Regions from separate parts of the Homo sapiens genome. Here regions 1, 2 and 3 are each linked to region 4. The links come from fine-mapping of genetic effects on gene expression. A gene starts in region 4. Each other region holds a variant in brackets. All regions are shown on one strand. Distances are between the middles of the regions. Region 1 overlaps ZNF227 (zinc finger protein 227). Region 2 holds the start of IGSF23 (immunoglobulin superfamily member 23). Region 3 overlaps IGSF23 (immunoglobulin superfamily member 23). Region 4 holds the start of CEACAM19 (CEA cell adhesion molecule 19).

Region 1 (5,472 bases), 430 kb after region 4:
GGTCCAATCACAGCTCACTGCAGCTTCAAACTCCTGGGCTCAAGTGATCCTCCCACCTCAGCCTCCTGAGTAGTTGAGACTATAGGTGTGAGCCACTGTGCCTGGCTGACAGTCTGCTTTCTATTATACTCTACTACTTTATTACCAATATTCTGACTTGGTCTCGTTAACACTAGTTTCTCCTAAAATGCCTTGGTCCTCTCAAGAAGCAGTAGAGGGATGTGCTTTGAGAACTTTGTCAAACTACCTCTGAGAAGGTTCAGAGAATGAGAGGTAAATAAAGTAAAGCAATGCTAATCAATGGCATCCGTGACACTCACAGGCTAGGAGAGCTCCGCAACACTTCACCAGAAACCATTCCTTAACACTATCTGCAAGGAAACATTGACTGGAAGGCTCTCATCTGAATATATCTATCTTTGGATATTTCTATCAGATACTTTTCTTCATGGCCCTACGGGAACATTTTATTTGGTTTAAAGGGTCAATACCCTGAGAATAGGAAAAATTATAATGTTTGGGAGACTATGCCATTCAAAAATCATCTCTGGCATCAGTCATCCAATACTCCCGTTCTCTCTGAAAGACAGAACCCCCAAGTTCTAGTTGGATGCATGTCCACATTCCCCAGTAAATATATGAATGATACTGGGAGACAAATTTCTGATTCTTGAAGAATGAAGATGCAACATAGAATGGGGGTAAGGCTAGAAAAAAAACACTATGATATTAATTTAAGAACTAGAGATAAAAGCAGGAACTCATCATTAATTCTTTCTACCTTTCTACTTCTCTTCCTATCTGTATAACTCTTTCCCCTCCTTCCTAGAGGGAAAAAAAAAAAGGCACAGCTATTACCCAGATCTTGATGTTTAACTACCATCCCCCAATCAGAAGAATCTGAGTTCTCAAAGAAACAGCAAATTCCATGGATGGTGCAGGAAGGGTACAAGATGAGCTTGGAACACTGTATTGTGTCAGAGTAAAGATGTGCTCCAATTTATTTAAAAATACATGATGGGCAAACAGGACAGAAGGGAAACTTCCTTAGAGTAGAACAACAATCTAACAAGTGTTGGAGGAATGATGAAAGTTGAATATATCACACTTTCGCACCATCAGAGCAATTACTGATTTAGACCAGACTTACAGAATGCTTAAACTAGTGGAGGAAAATTTACTGAAAAACAAGCTATTTAGAGTCAGAAAGTGTCTCCCCAGGAGTTGCCTTTGTAATTATTAATTACAAAGAAAAAAATAGTAATTTCGCAGTGGAAAAACCCAGCACCGCCCTCCCCAATCAAGTGTTCCAAGTTAACATCACCTATAAAGGTACAAACATACCTCGTTTCCTCACGTGCTGCACACCACTTACAGAGTCCTCATGGGAAAAAAATGTGTAATTTAAATCCAATTGTAAGGAAACCTCAGGCAAATCCAAATTAAGAGACATTCTACAAAATAATCTCAAAAATATCAAGGTCATTAAAAACAGAGGTAGCAACTCAGATTAAAGGAGTCTAAATGCAATGTGTAATCTTTGGACTCTAGAGCAGAAAAACAATAAATATATTATTGGGATAATTTTAAGATTTAAATAAGGTCTGTAGGTTACATAGTGTTATGTATCAATAATAAATTTTCTTTCTGGGTGCAGTGGCTCATGCCTGTAAACCTTGCATTTTGGAAGGCTGAGGTGGAACGATCACTTAAGCCCAAGAGTTCGATACCAGCTTAGACAACATAGCGAGAGCCCATCTCTACAAAAATCTTAAAAATTAGGTGGGCATGGTGGTCCACGCCTGCAGTCCCAGCTACTTGAAAGGCTGAGTGGGGAGGATTGCTTGAGCCCAGGAGTTCAAGGCTGCGGTGAGCTATAATCACCACCCTGCACTCAGCCTGGGCAACAGAATGAGACCCTGTCTCTAAATAAATAAATCACTGGAATGTTGTACTGTAACTAAGTAGATATCCTTGTTCTTAGGAAAGCACACTTAAGTATTTAGTGTAGGGAGAAGGATGTCTGTAACATATTCATATGGCAAAACTTTATATATAAATGCGTTTAGTATGTATAAGTATCAGTATATACACGCTCATACTTATTGAGAGAATAATTCAAACATCTTAACAACTGGTGAATCTGGGTAAAGAGTATATGGGAGCTTTTATATAATTTCTGTAATTTTTCTGAAAGTTTCAAATTATTTCAAAATAAGTTTAAAGAAATATAAAAATATACATAAAGTAAAATCCCATTATTTAGAGAGAACTATAATACCCATTCATCTATGCGTTTTTACAAAATAGGATCACATAAAAATCTCACATTTTGTTTTTCAAGTTAATATATTCTGAACATCTTCCAATATCCACAGCTAAAAATTTACCTTTTCCCATTTGATGTCTGCATAGTGTGCCACTGGATTGGTAAAGCACAAAATACTTTGGCAATCCAAGTATTTCTATGTTTGCTACTAAAACAATGATGCACCGACTATCCTCTTTTCTCTTTCTCTTGCTCTCTCTCTCTCTTTCTTCTTTATTTATTTGAGATGGAGTCTCGCTCTGTCACCAGGCTGGAGTGCAGTGGCGCAATCTTGGCTCACTGCGAACTCCACCTCCTGGGTTCAAGCGATTCTCCTGCCTCCGCCTCCCGAGTAGCTAGGACTACAGGCACGTGCCACCATGCCTGGCCAATTTTTTGTATTTTTAGTAGAGATGGGGTTTCACCATATTAGCCAGGATG[T/G]TCTCAATCTTCTGACCTTGTGATCCGCCCACCTTGGCCTCCCAAAGTGCTGGGATTACAGGCGTGAGCCACCGTGCCCGGCCATACTACTATCCTTTAATACACCTCTACAGCAGATATAAATTTACTTCTGAAGATCAAAGATTCATCTCTGGGGATATATTCCTTAATTTTACACCTATATACCATATAAAAGAATCATGAGTCCTTAGCTACAGAAAATTTTTAGTAATTTTATTCATTTTTCATAGCTTTACAGCTTTTATGAAAATAATGATCACTGTAAGTATAAAATGAAAATTAAAGAAAAGGGATAATAACCCAAAACTCTCCCTGGCCAAAAAACCAGTTAGCATATGGCAAATATCCTTCCACACATTATCTTCAGGCATATATTCACAATGAAAGGTGATCATTTATATTAACTAGATCTTACCAAGAGAGCCACCAGCCCTATTTCTCCCCTAAATACGAGTTCTATTCCTGTTCATGGTTCTGTGTTATCATCTTGATGGATTTGTTAGAAAGATTCCAAGTGTGAACAAACCCCCTTCCACTCTCAGTAGTTTTACAGGGTTTACCACCAGCATGGACTAGCCAAAAACTTGAAGATGTGCATTCAGACAAAAGTTGGTAACACATTTCTCATTTCTAAAGCTTTTTACCAGTATGGACTTTCTGATGATATGTAAGACGTGAACGGTGACGGAAGTCCTTATCACATATGTCACATTTGTATGGTTTTTCTCCAGTGTGGACTCTCTGATGGGCTTCAAGACGTGCACTCTGACTGAAGCCTTTACCACACTCTTCACATTTAAAGAGTTTTTCCCTGGTGTGAACACCCAGGTGGACTCGAAGATTTGAGGGGAGACTGAAGGCCTTACCACACTCCTCACATATATGGGGTTTCTCTCCCGTGTGGACCCTCTGATGATGGCGAAGATTCAAGCTCCTACCAAAGCCTTTCCCACACTCTTCACATTTGTAAGGTTTTTCTCCAGTGTGGCCTCTCTGATGGTATATAAACTGCGAACTGTATCTAAAGCCCTTTCCACACACATCACATTTGTATGGCTTTTCCCCCGTGTGGACTCTCTGATGGGATTGAAGACCAGAGGACTGACTGAAGCCCTTACCACAGACACCACATTTGTATGGCTTCTCTCCAGTATGGACTCTCTGATGTACCCGAAAATCTATGGCCTGACTGAAGCTCTTATCACACTGCTCACATTTATAGGGTTTTTCTCCTGAGTGAACTCTTTGATGTGCATGAAGATTTGATCTCCAACTGAAGCCCTTCCCACATTCCTCACATTTATATGGTTTTTCTCCAGTGTGAATTACTTGGTGTAGTTTAAGATTTGAACTATAACTGAAGTCCTTACCACACACATCACATCTATATGGTTTCTCTCCAGTGTGGACTCGCTGATGGGTTTGAAGCTTTGAGGACTGACTGAAGCCCTTCCCACACGTTTCACACTTGAATCGTTTCTCCCCAGTGTGGACATTCTGATGGACTTGAAGATTTGAAGCCTGACTGAAGCCCTTACCACACTCCTTACATTTATAGGGTTTCTCTCCCGTGTGAACTCTGAAATGAATATGCAGATCTGTATTACGGGTAAAGCCTTTCCCACACGCCTCACACTTGTATGGCTTCTCTCCTGTGTGGACTCTCCGATGGCATATTAATGGTGAATTGTGGCTGAAGCCCTTACCACACACATCACACTTGTAGGGTTTCTCTCCAGTGTGGACTCTCTGATGGATGTGAAAATGTGCAGCCTGAGTGAAGCCCTTACCACATTCCTCACATTTATAGGGCTTCTCACCCCTGTGGACCCTCTGGTGAACACGGAGATTAACACTCCAACCGAAGCCCTTACCACACTCTTCGCATTTGTATGGTTTTTCTTCAGTGTGGACTCTCTGATGGCACTGAAAATTTGAACTTTGACTAAAGCATTTACCACATTCCTCGCATTTATAGGGTTTCTCTCCAGTATGAGTTCTGTAATGAATGATAAGACCCGTGCTGCTACTGAATCCCTTGCCGCAACTGTCGCATCTATAAGACTTCTCTCCTGTATGATTAGATTGATAAGAATGAAAAGAGCTCTTATTGAAGCAATCACCAGATTCATGACATCTATTGAGTTTCTCTCCTGGGTGAATTCTCTGATGAGTTCGCAGATGTGAGCTTTGACTGAAGCATTTTTCTCCTGTATGAACATTCGGATGAAGGGGAAGCCTTGGGCTATAACTGAAGCCCCTTCCACACTCACCACATGGATGGGGTTTCTCTCCTAAGGGTAATTTCTGATTGGAGCCATCACTAATGATTTTGCCATATTCATTACCTTTGCAGGGTTTTGGTTCTGTGTCAGTTTTAATATGCTCATGAAATGGTGATTTCTTCATGAAGTCTTCATGTATTTGCAGGTTATTTTTCACATCAATTTGCTTACCTCTACTCTGAATCTGTGACTCACTCAGATATGTATTCCCGCAAGAATGCTGGGTTCTCCAAAATGGAAACTCTTGATTTTCAATATAAATAGAGCTATCTCCTTTAGGGTTCATTATATTGTTCTCATTTTCAGAAACCTGAATAGAGTCACCTTGTAATAACTGGGAACTCTTCCCCTGAAGACACCTGGTTAATTCACTTGCAACCTGTTTCCAGATTTGCCAGCAGGACAGCTCTTGATTTG
Region 2 (5,472 bases), 58 kb after region 4:
GAACTAGGTGGACTTTGAGGTTTTAAAATTACATGGAACTGAACTTTTTTTTTTTTTTTTTAAAGATGGAGTTTCGCTCTTGTTGCTCAGGCTGGAGTGCAATGGCACCATCTCAGCTAACCGCAACCTCCGCCTCCTGGGTTCAAGCAATTCTCCTGCCTCAGCCTCCCAAGTAGCTGGGATTACAGGCATGCACCACCACGCCCAGCTAATTTTCTGTTTTTAGTAGAGACGGGGTTTCTCCATGTTGGTCAGGCTGGTCTTGAATTCCTGACCTCAGATGATCCGCCCGCCTTGGCCTCCCAAAGTGCTGGGATTACAGCACTTTGTAATCCCAGCCACTGCACCCGTGAGCCACTGCACCCGGCTCAGAACTGAACTTTATTTATTTATTTTTGAGACGGAGTCGTGCTCTGTCGCCCAGGCTGGAGTGCAGTGGCACGATCTTGGCTCACTGCAAGCTCCGCCTCCCGGGTTCACGCCATTCTCCTGCCTCAGCCTTCTGAGTAGCTGGGACTACAGGCGCCCGCCACCAGGCCTGGCTAATTTTTTGTATTTTTAGTAGAGACGGGGTTTCACCGTGTTAGCCAGGATGGTCTCGATCTCCTGACCTCGTGATCCGCCTGCCTCGGCCTCCCAAAGTGCTGGGATTACAGGTGTGAGTCACCGCGCCCAACTCAGAAGTGAACTTTTAAGACCTGGATAAGGAAGCAATTCATTCACTATCTGAGAGGCAGATGTGTGTGGTCTCTGGAAAGTGTGGTCTGGGAAGCCAGCCCATCTGGCTTCAAATCTTCAGTCTGCCACTTCCAAGTGTGTGACCTGGAGAGGGCACATGACCTCTCTGAACCTCAGTTTCCCCTTCTGTGAAATAGGGATCGTACAGCTCTGATCTCAAAGAGTTGTGATAAGAGGTAAATGTTACTATAGGAAAGCACTTAGAACGGGCTGACAGGCTGGGCGCAGTGGCTCACGCCTGTAATCCTGGCACTTGGGGAGGCCGAGGCAGGAGGATCGCTTGAGCCCAGGAGTTCGAGACTAGCCTGGGCAACATAGTAAGACCTCATCTCTACTAAAAATAAAAAATTAGCTGGGTTTGGTGGCGCATACCTATGGTCCCAGCTACGCAGGACGCTGAGGCAGGAGAACAGCTTCAGCCCAGCAGGTTGAAGCTGCAATGAGTCATTATCGGGCCACTGCACTGTAGCCTGGACAACAGAGCAAGACCTTGTCTCAAAACAAAACAAAACAAAAAAACAAAAACCCCAAACAGGCTGGTATATAGATCTATTCAGTTACAGTGACCTTCTATTACGGCTGTTATTATTTTATGATTGTTATTATTTATATGTATTATTACTAAGTTGCGGATTGCAGGGGTGAGACAGGGCATTCTGGTGGAAGGGGGCTGGGCTGGGGTCCCAAATTCTGATCCTGCCCCTTGCCAGCCCTGTGATCTTGGGTAGGTGACCTGTTCTCCTCTTTGCGCCTCACTTCCCTTCTTCCTAAAAGAAGCCAATAGGGTCATCTCTTGTGGCGGAGTGGCCTTCAAGAGTTCTCATGAGTTGGGTGCCTGAGCTGCATGGGCCTCAAACTGACAGGGTCAAAGCTCTGAGTGGGGGTGACTTGGACTCGTAAGGAGACACTCTCCTCCTTGTCCCTGGCCCGTGGTGAAGCCGCTGTCTCCAACGCACCTGTTAAAAGCAGCTTCCTCCAGGTAGGGGTGTGGCTGGAGCTGACGTCCAGAGGACCCCTCATCTCGTGTTCTGTCCAGGGACTGTGCAGAGAAGGTCTCCTCATCACACATGGGGTCTTCATAGACCTGTACAGTCGCGTCTGCAGCCCCGGCCTCACCCTGCAGGACCCTGCTCACGATGACCATGCCCTACCCTGGCCACTTCCCCACATGACTTACACCAAGTTGGCTGGGAAGTCACCTCCAGCCGCATCCTTCTCTAGCATCGGGTCAGTGGTGGTGGTGGGTGGGGACCAGGCTGGGACAGGGTTCCTGGGAAGGGGGCTCTGAGGTTTTGCTCTCATTCTCTCACCGTACAATCCCCGCCGGGAGATGGAGGGAGAAGCAGAATCGCCCGCTCCTATCACTCACATCAAAGGCAAGGAATGGCCAAAGGTCAACCTGGTAGGAGGTGACGGGGCTTTGGACTCTGAACCACAGCTTTTCTCCTCTGTAAAATGGAGGCGTTAATAATAGTGCCTGCCCCAGAGTCAGACAGGGCCGTGGACACAAGGTGCTTGGAGTAGTGCCTGGTCACGTAGTAGGCGCTCAACGAATGGCAGTCACTATGAAGTCAATGCTAATTATAATTTGGTGTCTAGGATGTCCTGGAGGCATGTTTAGAATCCCGTTATCAGGAGCTTGCTCAGACTATATCCTGAATTTTAGATTCTAGAAGGATAAGCTACACTAGCTACTTTTTCCTCACCCTTCTCACTCCCCAGGTCCATTCTTTCCTCCTCAAATTAATAATTATATTACTCAAACTAATAGCTGGTGTTTATTGAACACCTACTATATGCCGGACACAGCATTAACCTTGTAACAGGGTTGCCTAATTTGAATCCTCATAGCAACCTCGAGGGGTAGATATGAGCATCCCCATTTTCTCGTGGTGCACAGGGGCTAAGTAACTCACCTACCATCACACAACCGTTCACAGGGGCTTTCTGCCAGTTTTTGGAGGCACCAGCTCAGGGGCTTTGCATGAGCCGTTCCCTCTCCTTAGAACCTTACTCATGTAATCTCAAAGCTGACTGTATCTTATTATTTTGGCTTAATTCACACACATCACTCTATCAAAAAGGCCTTTCTTAATGCCTGCTGCAACTCAGTTCCCCACCTCTTTGCTAGCAAGCCACACTGTTTTGTTTTCTTTACATCATTTACCGCTATTTTAGATGATTTATTTAT[T/G]TGTCCACTTGTATTATCTGTCTCTCCCTCCTTAGTCCCACCTCTCCGACTTGAATATCAGATCCAGGAGGGCAGGGATGTTGTCTGGCTTGTGGCTATGTCCCTAGTGACTAGAACAGTGCCTTGCATATAACAGGTGCTCAATACATGTTTTTGTTTTTGAGACGGGGTCTCACTCTGTCAGCCAGGCTGGAGTGCAGTGGCACGGTCATAGCTCACTGCAGCTTCAACCTTTTGGATTCAAGCAATAATCCTGCCTCAGTCTCCTGAGTAGCTGGGACTACAGTCTCACACTACCATTCCCAGCCAATTAAATTTTTTTTCTTTTTGTAGAAATAGAGTTTCACTATATTACCCAGGCTGGTCTCAAACTTCTGGGCTCAAGTGATCCTCCTGCCTCAGCCTCCCAGAGTGCTGGGATTACAGGCATGAACCACCTAGCCAGCCTACATGTTTTCTTTTTAGTGAATAAATGAATGAAGAGCAAGTGAGTGAAATGGGAGTGTTCAGACTTGAACTCAGATCTTTCTGACTTAGAAGCTCATGCTTTTCCCTCCCAGAGAGGTTCAGGTTCCACCCAGGGGCTAAGGTTCACCCATAAGTCTCTAATAATAGTCATTATCAGGTGACACAGTTATTTCTTTATTAGCATTTGCTAAAGTGCCTTTTTTATAGTTGGTCTGAAGGCCTCTGCTGGAGTGATTAGCTAGGTCAGGAGACCACTGTAGGAAAAAGTAAATATTTACGATGCAGTTAATAACCATTATGTTGTAAGGTTTCTGGGGTTTCTACCCAGCCAGTACTCTCTTGTATCCAGGTAACAGCACCTGGAGTTCTCTTTTGGAAACCAGCCTCCTCATGGCTCCAGGGAGGTGAGGGGCCCAGGACTGGCCAATCAGAGCACTTCATCCCCTGACAACAGTGATTTTTGGAGACCTGGGCGTGGCACTCAGAACAGGCCAAGGAGAAGCAATCTCTTACGGATTTTATTGGAACTCTGGGGAATAAAGCAATTTTTCTTTTTTCTGTTTTTAAATTTTTATTTATTTATTTAAAGACAGAGTCTTGCTGTGTTGCTCAAGCTGGAGTGCAGTGGTGTGATCTCTGCTCGCTGCAACTTCCACCTCTGGGGTTTAAGAGATTCTCATGCCTCAGCCTCCGGATTAGCTGGGATTACAGGCATGTGCCACCATGCCCAGCTAATTTTTTCATATTTTTAGTAGAGACAGTCTTTCACTATGTTGCCCAGGCTGGTCTTGAACTCCTGGCCTCCAGTGACCCACCTGCCTCGGCCTCCCAAAGTGGTGGGATTATAGGCGTGAGACACCGCACCCAGCCTAAAAGCATTTTTTCTTGCTTCCGGGTTTGCTGAGCTGAAGAGATCTCAGTGTGCAGCTGCTGGGGGCCATCTTTCTATCATGAGTAGAGAGATTGCCTAAAAACGAGGCCAACACATGTGAAAGCATAGTCAATGCACAGAAAGAGAGATTTCTAATGGCATCATTTAAACACCTAGATTCAGCTGTGCCTGATGTCCATACTGATCCTTCAGCTTGTGTGCTATGCTGGTCTGTGTATTCTCATTGTTTCCCCTGAAGTCAGTTTGTTTTGGGATTCAGTTACTTTAAATCCCAAAAGAACTTTGATTGAGGTCGGGCACGGTGGCTCACACCTGTAATCCCAGCACTTTGGGAGGCCGAGGCAGGCGGATCACTTGAGGTCAGGAGTTCTGGACCAGACTGACCAACATGGAGAAACCCTGTCTCTACTAAAAATAGAAAATTAGCTGGGCGTGGTGGTGCATGCCAGCTACTCGGGAGGCTGAGGCAGGAGAACCTCTTGAACCCAGGAGGCAGAGGTTGTGCTGAGCCAAGATCACGCCATTGCACTCCAGCCTGGGAAACAGGAGTGAAACTCGGTCTCAAAAAAAAAAAAAGAAAAGAAAGAACTTTAATGGAAAGGAAAGATGAAAAACAGAGCTTTGAAAGGATCTGACTCTCAATCTAGCTGAGACTCAGGCTGGATAAGGGAAGACTCTGGGGAAGAGACGGTGAAGCGGACCCCTGCAGGACGAGGAGAACTTAGCAGGTCACTGTTTCTGAGGACTGCAGAACTCCATGTAAACCTCTGCATTAAGAGATGACCAAGGCCAGGTGTGGTGGCTCATGCCTGTAATCCCAGCACTTAGGGAGGCTGAGGTGGGAGGATTGCTTGAGGCCAGGTGTTTGAGACCAGCCTGGGAAACATAATGAGACCCCCATTTCTACAAAAAAATAAAAAAATTAGCTGGGCATGGTGGCATGCATGTGCCTGTAGTCTTAGCTACTTGGGAGGCTGAGGTGGGAGAATTGCTTGCGCTCAGGAGTTCGAGGCTGCAGTGAATTATTATTGAGCCACTGTACTCCAGCCTGGGCAGCAGAGCAAGGCTCTGTCTCAAAAAAAAAAAAAAAAAAAAAAAAAGAGAAAAAGAAAAGAAAGAAAGAGATGATCAAAGTTTAGCAGGGCATCTAGCAGCATAAGGTCGTGTTCTTAGGATGACTCCA
Region 3 (5,472 bases), 34 kb after region 4:
GTGGGCCCAGGGGACCGGTGCTCAGCAAGTGAGGACCTGCACCGGCACTGGTCTCTGAGTTCCCTCAGTATTTATTGATCACTATCCCTACTATCTCGGTGAGGGGGATGTGGCAGGACTATAGGGTAATGGTGGGGAGAGGGTCAGCAGGAAAACGTGAGCAAAGGACTCGGTGTCATAGATAAATTTAAGGAAAGGAGCTGTGCCTGGATGTGCACGTAGGCCAGATTTATGTTTGACTTTACACAAATATCTCAGTGCAGTAAAGAGCAGTATTGCTGCCAGTGTGTCTCACCTCCAGCCATAAGGCAGTTTTCTCCTATCTCAGTAAATAGAATGTACGATCGGGTTTTACACCGAGATATTCCATTCCCAGGGACGAGCAGCAGACAGATGCCCTCCTCTTATCTCAACTGCAGAGAGGCCTTCCTCTTTCACTAATCCTCCTCAGCACAGACCTTTTATGGGTGTCGGGCTGGGGGACGGTCAGGTCTTTCCCTTCCCACGAGGCCATCTCTCAGGCTGTCTCAGTGGGGGAAATCTTGGACAATACCCAGGTTTTCTTGGGCAGAGGTCCCTGCTGCCTTCCGCAGTGTATGGTGTCCCTGGTTACTTGAGACTGGAGAATGGCAATGACTTTTACCAAGCATACTGCCTGCAAACACATTTTTACCAAAGCACATCCTGCACAGCCCTAAATCCATTAAACCTTGAGTCAATACAGCACACGTTTCTGCGAGCACAGGGTTGGGGCTAGGGTTACAGATTAACAGCATCTCAAGGCAGAAGAATTTTTCTTAGTACAGATCAAAATGGAGTTTCTTATGTCTTCCTTTTTCTACATAGACACAGTAACAGTCTGATCTCTCTTTCTTTCCCCCACACTTTTGAGGTCAGGAGTTCAAGACCAGCCTGGCCAACATGGTGAAACCCCATCTGTACTAAAAACACAAAAATTAGCTGGGTGGTAGTCGTGCACACCTGTAATCCCAGCTACTTGGGAGGCTGAATCACTTGAGGTGGAGGTTACAGTGAGTCAACGTCATGCCACTGCATTCCAGTCTGGGCAACAGAGTGAGACTCTGTCTCAAAAAAAAAAAAAAAAAAAAAAGAAATATATGGTCTAAAAAGTTATTTATTTAACTGCTCAACAAATGGCAGCAATTATTATTGATGTCTCCTGGGGCTTATGATTCTTTATCTGAAAAATGGGCATAGCATGGCACAGTGGCTCAAACCTGAAATCTCAGCACTTTGGCAGGCTGAAGTGGGAGGACTGTTTGAGAAGAACGCATTAAAGCTCTTTGGTGCGATGCCTGACAATTACCACTATGGAGACGTGGCTGCTCTTTAAACAATTTTTAAAATTTTTTTATTTTTGGCAGAGTCTTGCTCTGCTGCCCAGGCTGAAGTACAGTGGCACAATCTTGGTTCACTGCAACCTCTGCCTCCCGGGTTCAAGCGATTCTCATGCTTCAGCCTCCCAAGTAGCTGGGATTACAGGCCCGCACCACCACGCCTGGCTAATTTTTTTTGCATTTTTAGCAGACAAGGTTTCGCCATGTTGGCCAGGCTGGTCTTGAACTCCTGAGCTCAGCTCAGTCAATCCATCTGCCTCGGCCTCCCAAAGTGCTAGGATTACAGCTGTGAGCCACTGTGCCCGGCCAAAAAAATTTTAATTTTTAAATTTTATTTTTCTTAAACACCAACTCCAACCAGAAGACCTGGCTGCTCTTTTATTTATTTATTTTTTTTTTTGAGACGGAGTCTCGCTCTGTTGCCCAGGCTGCAGTGCAGTGGTAACGATCTTGGCTCACTGCAAGCTCCACCTCCCGGGTTCACGCCATTCTTCTGCCTCAGCCTCCCGAGTAGCTGGGACTACAGGCTCCTGCCACCACGCCAGCTAATTTTTTGTATTTTTAGTAGAGACAGGGTTTCACTGTATTAGCCAGGATGGTCTTGATCTCCTGACCTCGTGATCTGCCTGCCTCACCTCCCAAAGTGCTGGGATTACAGGCGTGAGCCACCGTGCCCGGCCATCTGGCTGCTCTTGTTATTAATGATCTTAATGTTGTTCTCTAGTACAGCTGACCCCTCCCTCACCAGGAAGCCCTCCTGGATCCTCCAGTCTCCATTAAGACTCCCCCCTGGCCTCCCAGAGGAGAGTGATGACTCTGGGTCATCACTGGGAACAGGTCTGTCTCCCTCACTGTACTATAAGCCCTAGGAGGGCAGGCCCAGGGCTGCTGTGGTCACCTCTTGAGGCAGGAGAATAGGGAATTAGGGTAACCAAGGGTAAAGCCATAAGCAAAAGAACGCAGGTACACCTAGTTCTAGGCAAGATTAGGCAGCACACAAGCCACATCCCCATTCGTGTGATAACAAGGGACAGGGTTTCACCATGTTGCCATGCTGGTCTTGAATTCCTGACCTCAGGTGATCTGCCCGCCTTGGCCTCCCAAAATGCTGGGATTACAGGCGTGAGTCACCGTGCCTGGCTAACATCTCTTACTTATTTTATTTTATTTTTGAGATACTGTCACTCCCTCACCCAGGCTGGAGCACAGTGGCCATGATCTCGGCTCACTGAAACCTCTGCCTCCTGGGTTCAAGTGGTTCTCCTGCCTGAGCCTCCCCGGTAGCTGGGATTATAGGCATGTGCCCCCACATCCGGCCAATTTTTGTATTTTTAGTAGAGATGGGGTTTCACTATGTTGGCCAGGCTGGTCTTGAACTCCTGACCTCAGGTGAGCCACCTGCCTTGGCCTCCCAAAGTGGTGGGATTACAGGTGTGAGCCACTGCGCCTGGCCTGCTATGACACATTAATCATGTAAGGTAAATAGTCAGTGGCTGGCA[C/G]ATGGAGAGCCCTCAACAGACAAGACTTGGACTCAGTTCTGCTACTATTATTGCTAAGCAGAATGCCATGTTAGGTGGTTCTGTGTTGGTCACAGAAGCACCGAATTTTCCTCAAATGTGAGATATATCCCCCAGAGGAGTTTCAGCCATACTTGTGTGCCCTGTGCCTGCTATCTGTCAGGATCCTCCTATGGAGAGGTATTAAACTTGAACAGTGCAAAGCTCAAAGGTTGATCTTATTTGCAAACATGCCTCTCCCACTCTCAGGAAGAGAGGCTTCATGAGAAACCATTCAGAAGTGGTGGTGTTTTAATTTATTTTTTGGTTCTTTTTGAAAAAGAGAAAAAAAAAGCAGCATGTGTAAAAGACATATTTTGGGGTCTGGCCAATTTCCAAGGTAAAACCTCCCCCCTGTTTTCTGAGCACTGAGCTCCCACAGACAGGGATGAGCCTCTGATGCTTTGCTTGCACAACGTGTCACGGCGATGGGACCAAGGATGGCACCGAGTCAACCCATCAGATGTTTTCTTCAGGTGTTTCAGAAACAGGGCAAAGGGAGTCTGGTTACGTTGGGTTGTTCCCTTGAACAGAGATGTTGTAGACTTGGAAGCTATGGGATGGGTTTTTTTTTCCACGTGGATAGAGAGGTACAAAGCACCCATCTGCAGAGAGAGACAGAGAACTGTAAATTCCACATGCAGGAGGAAAGGAATTGTAAGGGCTTGGGGTGGGGGTGAAGTGTGTGTGTGGGGGAGGCTGGCAGAGAGAGCTGTGTGTACTTCCACATTTCTTCGTAGATTGCAAAAATGGCCACAGATTTTTCCCTTCTTAGCAAGAGGTGGAGTCAACTTCCCCATCCCTTGAATTTGGCCAGTCATGTAACTTTGGCCAATGAAGTCCTTTCTGTGGCAGAAGTGATGGCATGTCCATTTTGAGCTTGAGACTTAAGGGGCCTTGAAGTTTCTGCTGTTACTCTTGGAATCCTGCCTCTGCCATGTGAACAAGCTTGGGTCACCCTGCTGGAGGATGAGAGACAACATGAAGGAGAGGCCAGTTGTCCCAGCTATGAGGCTATCCTAGTCCAGACAGCCCCTGGGCAATCTGTCAACTGACCCCAGATGCAGGAGCGAGCCTGGCAGAGACCAGAACTACCCAGCTGAGCCCAGCCCAAATGGATGACCCATGAAATTGCAAGCTAAATAAATGGCTGTTGTTTCAAGCCAGTGAATTTTGGGGAGGCAGTTTGTTACAAAGCAAATGCTGACTCACACCTATGGATTGCTGAAAAATTTCATAGGTCCTTATATTAAACTGTTCATTTTATTTTTTCCTGAGCTACGTCAGTGAGTTTCTTTTGCATGGAGCCCAAGAGGTTTATGAAATATAGACTGCTTGTTTAGGCAGCTTCCAGGAATTTGATGAGCTGGGCAGATGGGGTGCTGGCAGTTGGCAAAAGAAGAGAAAAGCAGCTCCTGGAGCTCTCCACAGGAGGGGAACATCTCACAGACAAATGACCAGGGAACCAGGAGGGAGGAAATCACATATGGAGTCTCTGCCCAAGAACTTCTTTCTGTTCCCAAACCTAGGATTTCCTTCACACCCTTCCTGGTATTACCTCTTCAGCTGACAGGAGAGTTGCCCACATTTCAGCTGCATATTCCTATTCTCTGCCTGTCAGTCCTGCAGTGGAGAGAGAGAGAGAGACAGAGAGAGAGAGAGAGAGAGAGAGAGAATAAGAATCATCGACTGAATTATTATCCGTTCCCCAAATTAATATGTAGTCCTAACCCTCCAATGTGACTATATTTGGAGATAGATTCTTCAGACACAGTAAGGTTAAATGAGATCATAAGAGTGGGGTCCTGATCCAATAAGACTGGTATCCTTACAAGAAGAGGAAGAGACCCCAGGGATGAGCATAGAGAAAAGGTCACGTGAGGACACAGTGAGAAGGTGGCCTTCTGCAAGCCATGGAGAGGGGCACTATGGGACATCAAACTGGCTGCCACCTTGATCTTGGACTTCCAGCATCCAGACTGTGAGAAAATAAATTTTTGTTGTTTAAGCCCCCCCGGTCTGTAGCATTTTTGTTACAGCAGCTGGAGCAAACTAATACAATCATCATCATCACATGGCTGAGGTTTATTGAAGGCTCATCACATTCCAGGCACTGTTCACAGCTCATGACTCCCACCATTTTACTTAATCCTCACTCCTGTCTTTGGAGGGAAGTATAATCACATCCCTGGGTTTTTTTTTTTTTTTCTTTTTTCTTTTTTTTGGAGACAGTCTGGTTCTGTTGCCCAGGCTGGAGTACAGTGGCGCTATTTTGGCTTACTGCAACTTCCGCCTCCCAGGTTCAAGAGATTCTGTTGGGAACATGCCCCCCAAAATCTGGCCATAAACTGGCCCCAAAACTGGCCATAAATAGTGGCCTGACCCTCCAGTTCTTTCTTTTCTGGAGGACGCTGGGCGAAAAGTAGTTGCCCCAGTGACTGTTCGAGCAGCGCCTGGAGCGACTGCTGTCAGTTCTATTCAGGCAGGAATCCAGCAAGCTAGAAGAGAAGGTGATTTAGAGGCTTGGCAGTTCCCTGTTAGAATACACCCCCCAGATC
Region 4 (5,472 bases):
ACCTTTTAATACCATCATCTTGGAGGTTAGGATTTCAACATATAAATTCTAAGGGGATCTGTGTCCTGTGGAAATGGCAAGGGGCCACAGCACCTCCCTCCCTCAATCACCTTCTTCTGGTCTCTCCTCTAAGGTCACTTCTTGAGTGAGGTCTCCCTGATGACCTCCTTTCCCATGTCACATCATTCTGGTTCGTATTCTTTACTCAGCAAGTCATAACCACTGCGTGCCTCCATTTTTCAATCTGTAAAATGGAGACAATAATGGCGCTGGCCTCATGGAGTTGTTTTAAGGTAAAAATGAGTAAATATAGAGTAATGGTTCTCAACCAGGGGTGATTCTTATCCCAGGGTGGAGACATTTGGTAATATCTGAAGACATTTTTGGTTGGCATGACTAGGAAGCTGCTACTGGTACCTAGTGAGTAGAGGCCGGGGTGCTGCTGAAATCTCTGCAATGCACAAACCCTCTACTAGTAAGAACTGGCCAATACAAAACATCAGTAGTGCTGAAGCTGAGAAACTATGCTTTAGGGAAAATGTTTAAGATGGTGCCTGGCTCTTAACGATCACCCAAGAAATGCCAGCTGTCATTATTGCCCACCACCCTTTCCCTCACACTTTGCCCCGAGTGGATTCATCAGTAAATACTCGCTTTATAAACATAAAGATTGAGGGATGCATTCCTCACAACCAGGCATACAGTAAGTGCTCGATAAAAATTTGGTTAATGTTAGTGCATGTGAAAGGTAAATGAGATGGTGCATTCTCCAGTGTCAGGCACAAGGCGGGCATTTCATAGATATTTTATTAGTTAATGCATGTGAGGGTTAAAGACTATCTCTGGGGATTGGTACACAGTAGATGCTCAATATGTGTCAAGTGAATAAATGAGAGGACCAAATGAAATGGTGTTTGCACAGCACCTGGTGCATGGTAGCTGCTCAGGGCTCATTAGCTTCCTCACCTCATCCCCAGACCCTAACACTTACCAGCTACCTGGACCTCAGTCTTGGCCTTCATAGTCCATTCAGAGTTGATGGTAATGGCTACTTGGTAGGTGCCACTGTCTGTAGGCTGGGCGCGGCGCAGCAGCATGGAACCATTGGGGAAGCCCACGATGTCTCGCTGTCCCATGGCACTGCCATCCCTCTGAGGCCGTTGTATCCCAGGGATGTAGGTAAATAGCCTCGTGCCTCCGTACGTCTCCTCCCCCAGGTACCAGTTGAAGTCCTGGAAGGTGTCTGGGACACCCTGGACTGACAGGAGAAGGTCCTGGTTCTTTTGAGGCTGCTCTGGAATCTTCTGGATGTAGAGAGCTGCCTGGGAGCCTTGGAGCATCCAGAGGACCAGGATTGAGGCTGTGGGAAGTTACAGGGAAGGGCTGAGATCAGGGGTGTTGCCAGGGACCATGGCATGCTCCTCTCTAGATACAGATCTTCAGCGGGGAGCAAGGACTCTGAGTGCTGCTCATTGGAAACAATGCTGGGATTGATTAGTGATGTCTGCCCTGGGTGCAGGAGTGGGAACACAGGCATGGTTACCACAGATTTGCCATCCTGTTGATCCAGAGGTTTTTCTACCTTGAGATGCTGTGTGGCCTGCTTCTAAACACATGGACTCTCTGAATTCATTCATTCATTCATTTATTCAACCAATACTTATAGGCATATGTAATATATAAGCTATAATACCAACTATATGTAATACATCTAAACTTCCTTCAATTTCTAGACACTGGAGATATAGCAGGGAACCAAACATACATAAATTCCTGCCTTCATGGTCCTAACATTATAGAAAATTCCATAGATAAAATGGCAATGAGGCTGTGATTCTGTTGCCCCTCCCCCATCTTATTCTAATTTCATCCTCTCAGGTAATCTTTCCCTACTTCTAAGAGGAAACTTCAATCTCTGGGCTGAGTCCCCATTTCTCCCCTTGGCCTTTAGGGTCTATTTCCTCCTTACCTGAGAGCAGGAGGCTCTTTGAGAAGCAGCCCTGGGTCCCCATGGGAATCTCCATCTTGGCGTCTTGTGGAAATGCCAAGGGGCCACGAGCTGGACACTAAGGGGGCCAGAGGGGTGGGCCCTGGCTGTCTGAAGTAGGCCAGCTCAGTGGGGATCCCAGGGGTGCCTTAGAGACACCGCTGGGGCTGGCCCAGCCCCAGCATGCCCTGTCCATGGGCTCTGGAGGCTCCACCTATACTCCCTGGGATGGGAGCACAGACAGAGGTTGAACCAGTTTTTCAGGGTGACTGGGGAACTTCCCAGGACTCCTCCCCTGACCCTCTTCAACCTCTTTTTCTCACTCAGCGTGACTACAACAGCAGTCACTGTAGCAATAGTCATAACAGCCTCTGTTTGAACAATTCCCCTGGGTTTGTTCAAACACACACTGCCTCATTCAGCAGCCACCATAAATAACTGTTCCCATTGCACAGATGTGGAAACAGAGGCCCAGGAAAAGAGGCAAGTCTGCCAATAGACAGAGGTGGGATTTCACCTGTGGCTGACTCACTTGAAGGCTCTGAGGCAGGCTGGGTGCGGTGGCTCACGCCTGTAATCCCAGCATTTTGGGAGGCCAAGGTGGGTAGATCACGAGGTGAGGAATTTGAGACCAGCCTGGCCAACATGGTGAAACCCTGTCTCTACTAAAAATACAAAAGTTAGTCAGGCGTGGTGGTGGGCACCTGTAATCCCAGCAACTGGAGAGGCTGAGGCAGGAGAATCACTTGAACTTGGGAGGCAGGGGTTGCAGGGAGCCGAGATCGCGCCACTGCATTCCAGCCTGGGTGACAGAGCGAGACTTCGTCTCAAAAAAAAAAAAAAGCTCTTAGCCTCGTGTTTTTCTTTTTTTTTCTTTTGAGATGGAGTTTCGCTCTTGTTGCCCAGGCTGGAGTGCAATGGCGCAATCTCAGTTCACCGCAACCTCTGCCACCTGGGTTCAAGCGATCCTCCCACCTCAGGGAGTAGCTGGAAATGCAGGCATGCGCCACCACGCCCGGCTACTTTTGTAGTTTTAGTAGAGACAGGGTTTCTCCATGTTGGTCAGGCTGGTCTTGAACTCCTGACCTCAGGTGATCTGCCCACCTTGGCCTCCCAAAGTGCTGGGATTACAGGTGTGAGCCACCGCGCTCAGCCTGTTTTTTTTTTTTTTTTTTTTTTTTTTTTTTCTTGAGACAGGGTCTTGCTCTGTCTTTCCATTCATGAACATTGGTTGTCTTACCATTTAAATATGTCACCTATAATTGCAAGAATATTTTGTAGTTTTTGGATTGGTTTCTTTTTTAGATGCTGTGTCACCCAGGCTGGAGTACAGTGGCACAATCTCAGTTTACTGCAACCTCCGCCTCCCAGGTTCAAGTGATTCTTCTGCCTCAGCCTTCTGAGTAGCTGGGATTACAGGCATGCGTCACCATGCCTGGCTAATTTTTGTATTTTTAGTAGAGATGGGGTTTTGCCATGTTGGCCAGGCTGGTCTCAAACTCCTGACCTCAGATGATCCTCCTGCCTCGGCCTCCCAAAGTACTAGGAGTATAGGCATGAGCCACTGCACCCAGCCCCAGAGTGTATGTTTTGTACTTTTTTGGATCATGTTTATTCCAAGTGTGTTATTCTTTTTTTTTTTTTTTAAGACAGGGTCTCGCTCTGTTGCCCAGGCTGGAGTATAGTTGCATGATCATTGCTCACTGCAGCCTCCAACTCCTGGGCTCAAGCAATCCTCCCGTCTCAGCCTCCTGAGTAGCTGGGACCACAGTTGTGTGCTACCATCCCTGGTCAATTTTTATATGTTTTGTAGAGATGGGATCTCACTATGTTGCCCCAGGCTGGTGTTGAACTCCTGGGCTCAAGTGATCCTCCCACCTTAGCCTCCCAAAGTACTGGGATTACAGATGTGACTCACCATACCTGGCTTAGCCTAGTTTTTAAAAAGCATCCTCCATTCATTCCAGCACACATTCCCAGTGCCCAGTTGTGTGTGCTGGGTGATGTTGGTGACACAGTGATGATTGAGACCACCTCTGCTCTGCCCTCTGTCCACAGTAGGGCACACAATCCTGTAGGGTTTGGGGGGGCAGACCCCTCTCACACAATTATGATCCAGAGTGATCAGGGCTGGGATGGAGGAGCCCAGGAGTCTGGGAGAGCCCAAGGAGACACACCTCATTCAACCTGACGGCTAGGGAGGGCTTCCTGGGGGAGGGGGCATCTGAGCTGAGACCTGGAGTAAGAGTAGAAATGAGGCAGATGATGGGGTGAGGCAGCATGAGGTGCACCAGGCAGCATAAATAGCAATGCAAGGATGTGGAGGCTGAGATAGTCATCAAGGTGTATTGAGGAGGTTGCAATATCTTGGGTGAGTGGAGCCAGGAAGGAGGGTGTGGGGCCTGTGTGTGTGAGGCTGGGAGGTAGGAGAGATCAAATGTGCTCTGTTGGTTGGATCAACAGAGCTTGGATAATGGAGGGTCTAGTGTTATGCTGTTTAATATCATAGCTATTAGTCATATGTGGCTATTTAAATATAAATTTAGGGAGGCACAGGTGACCCACACTTGTAATCCTACCCCTCTGAGAGGCTGAGGTGGGAAGATTGCTTGAGCCTAGGAATTGGAGACCAGGCTGGGCAACATAGTAGGACCCCAACTTTACACAAAACAAATTTAAAAAATTAGGTAGGCTTGGTGGCTTTCAACTATAGTTCCAGTTACTCAGAAGGCTGAGGCAGGAGGATTGTTGAACCTGGGAGGTCAAGGCTGCAGTGAACTTTGATCATGACACTGCACTCCAGCCTGGGTGACAGAGTGAGACCATGTCTCAAAAAAATATACTGAATAGGCCAGGCGTGGTGGCTCATGCCTGTAGTCCTAGCACTTTGGGAGGCAGAGGCAGGCAGATCACTTGAGGTCAGGAGTTCAAGACCAGCCCGGGCAACATGATGAAACCCTGTCTCTACTAAAAATGCAAACATTAGCTGGCCGTGGTGGCGCATGCCTGTAATCCCAGCTACTCGGGAGGCTGAGGCAGGAGAATCACTTGAACCTGGGAGGTGGAGGTTATAGTGAGCCAAGATTGTGCCACTGCACTCCGGCCTGGGCAACAGAGCAAGACTCCATCTCCAAAAAAAAAAACTGAATATATATATATTATTTTATATATAATATATATTATATATAATTATATATTATATTATATATATTATATTATATTATATTATATATTATATTTATATATACATATTATAATATATAATATAATATATAATATATTATAATATATAATATATGTATATAATTATATAATTATATACATATATAATATGTGTATATAATTATATAATTATATACATATATAATATGTGTATATAATTATATAATTATATACATATATAATATGTATATAATTATATAATTATATACATATATTATATATTTATATTATAACTAATATATAATATATATAATATATATAAT

The links. PIP is the estimated chance that this variant, and not a neighbour inherited with it, causes the effect.
Region 1: its variant is the best candidate, but not a certain one, in a credible set for the expression of CEACAM19 in substantia nigra (GTEx, PIP 0.83).
Region 2: its variant is the best candidate, but not a certain one, in a credible set for the expression of CEACAM19 in aorta (GTEx, PIP 0.64).
Region 3: its variant is the best candidate, but not a certain one, in a credible set for the expression of CEACAM19 in blood mononuclear cells (TOPMed, PIP 0.71).

The regions. Positions count from the first base shown.
Region 1 is chr19:44,234,759-44,240,230 of GRCh38, reverse strand. ZNF227 (zinc finger protein 227) reads right to left here. Exons shown (of 6, transcript NM_182490.3): 6 at 2,963-5,472. The coding sequence ends at 3,401. It overlaps LOC124904726 (a long non-coding RNA gene), which reads left to right and starts at 5,387. Exons shown (of 3, transcript XR_007067266.1): 1 at 5,387-5,472. The variant T/G (reference allele first, on the strand shown) is at 2,750.
Region 2 is chr19:44,610,214-44,615,685 of GRCh38, reverse strand. It overlaps IGSF23 (immunoglobulin superfamily member 23), which reads right to left and starts at 2,123. Exons shown (of 5, transcript NM_001205280.2): 1 at 1,916-2,123. The coding sequence starts at 2,040. RefSeq lists an enhancer at 210-711. The variant T/G (reference allele first, on the strand shown) is at 2,930.
Region 3 is chr19:44,634,466-44,639,937 of GRCh38, reverse strand. It overlaps IGSF23 (immunoglobulin superfamily member 23), which reads right to left. Exons shown (of 5, transcript NM_001205280.2): 4 at 4,473-4,537; 5 at 3,157-3,519. The coding sequence ends at 4,504. Among named protein-coding and RNA genes, the nearest start is that of PVR, 6.7 kb to the left of the region's middle. RefSeq lists an enhancer at 2,895-3,189. The variant C/G (reference allele first, on the strand shown) is at 2,858.
Region 4 is chr19:44,668,484-44,673,955 of GRCh38, reverse strand. It overlaps CEACAM19 (CEA cell adhesion molecule 19), which reads right to left and starts at 2,474. Exons shown (of 8, transcript NM_001127893.3): 1 at 1,970-2,474; 2 at 992-1,360. The coding sequence starts at 2,024.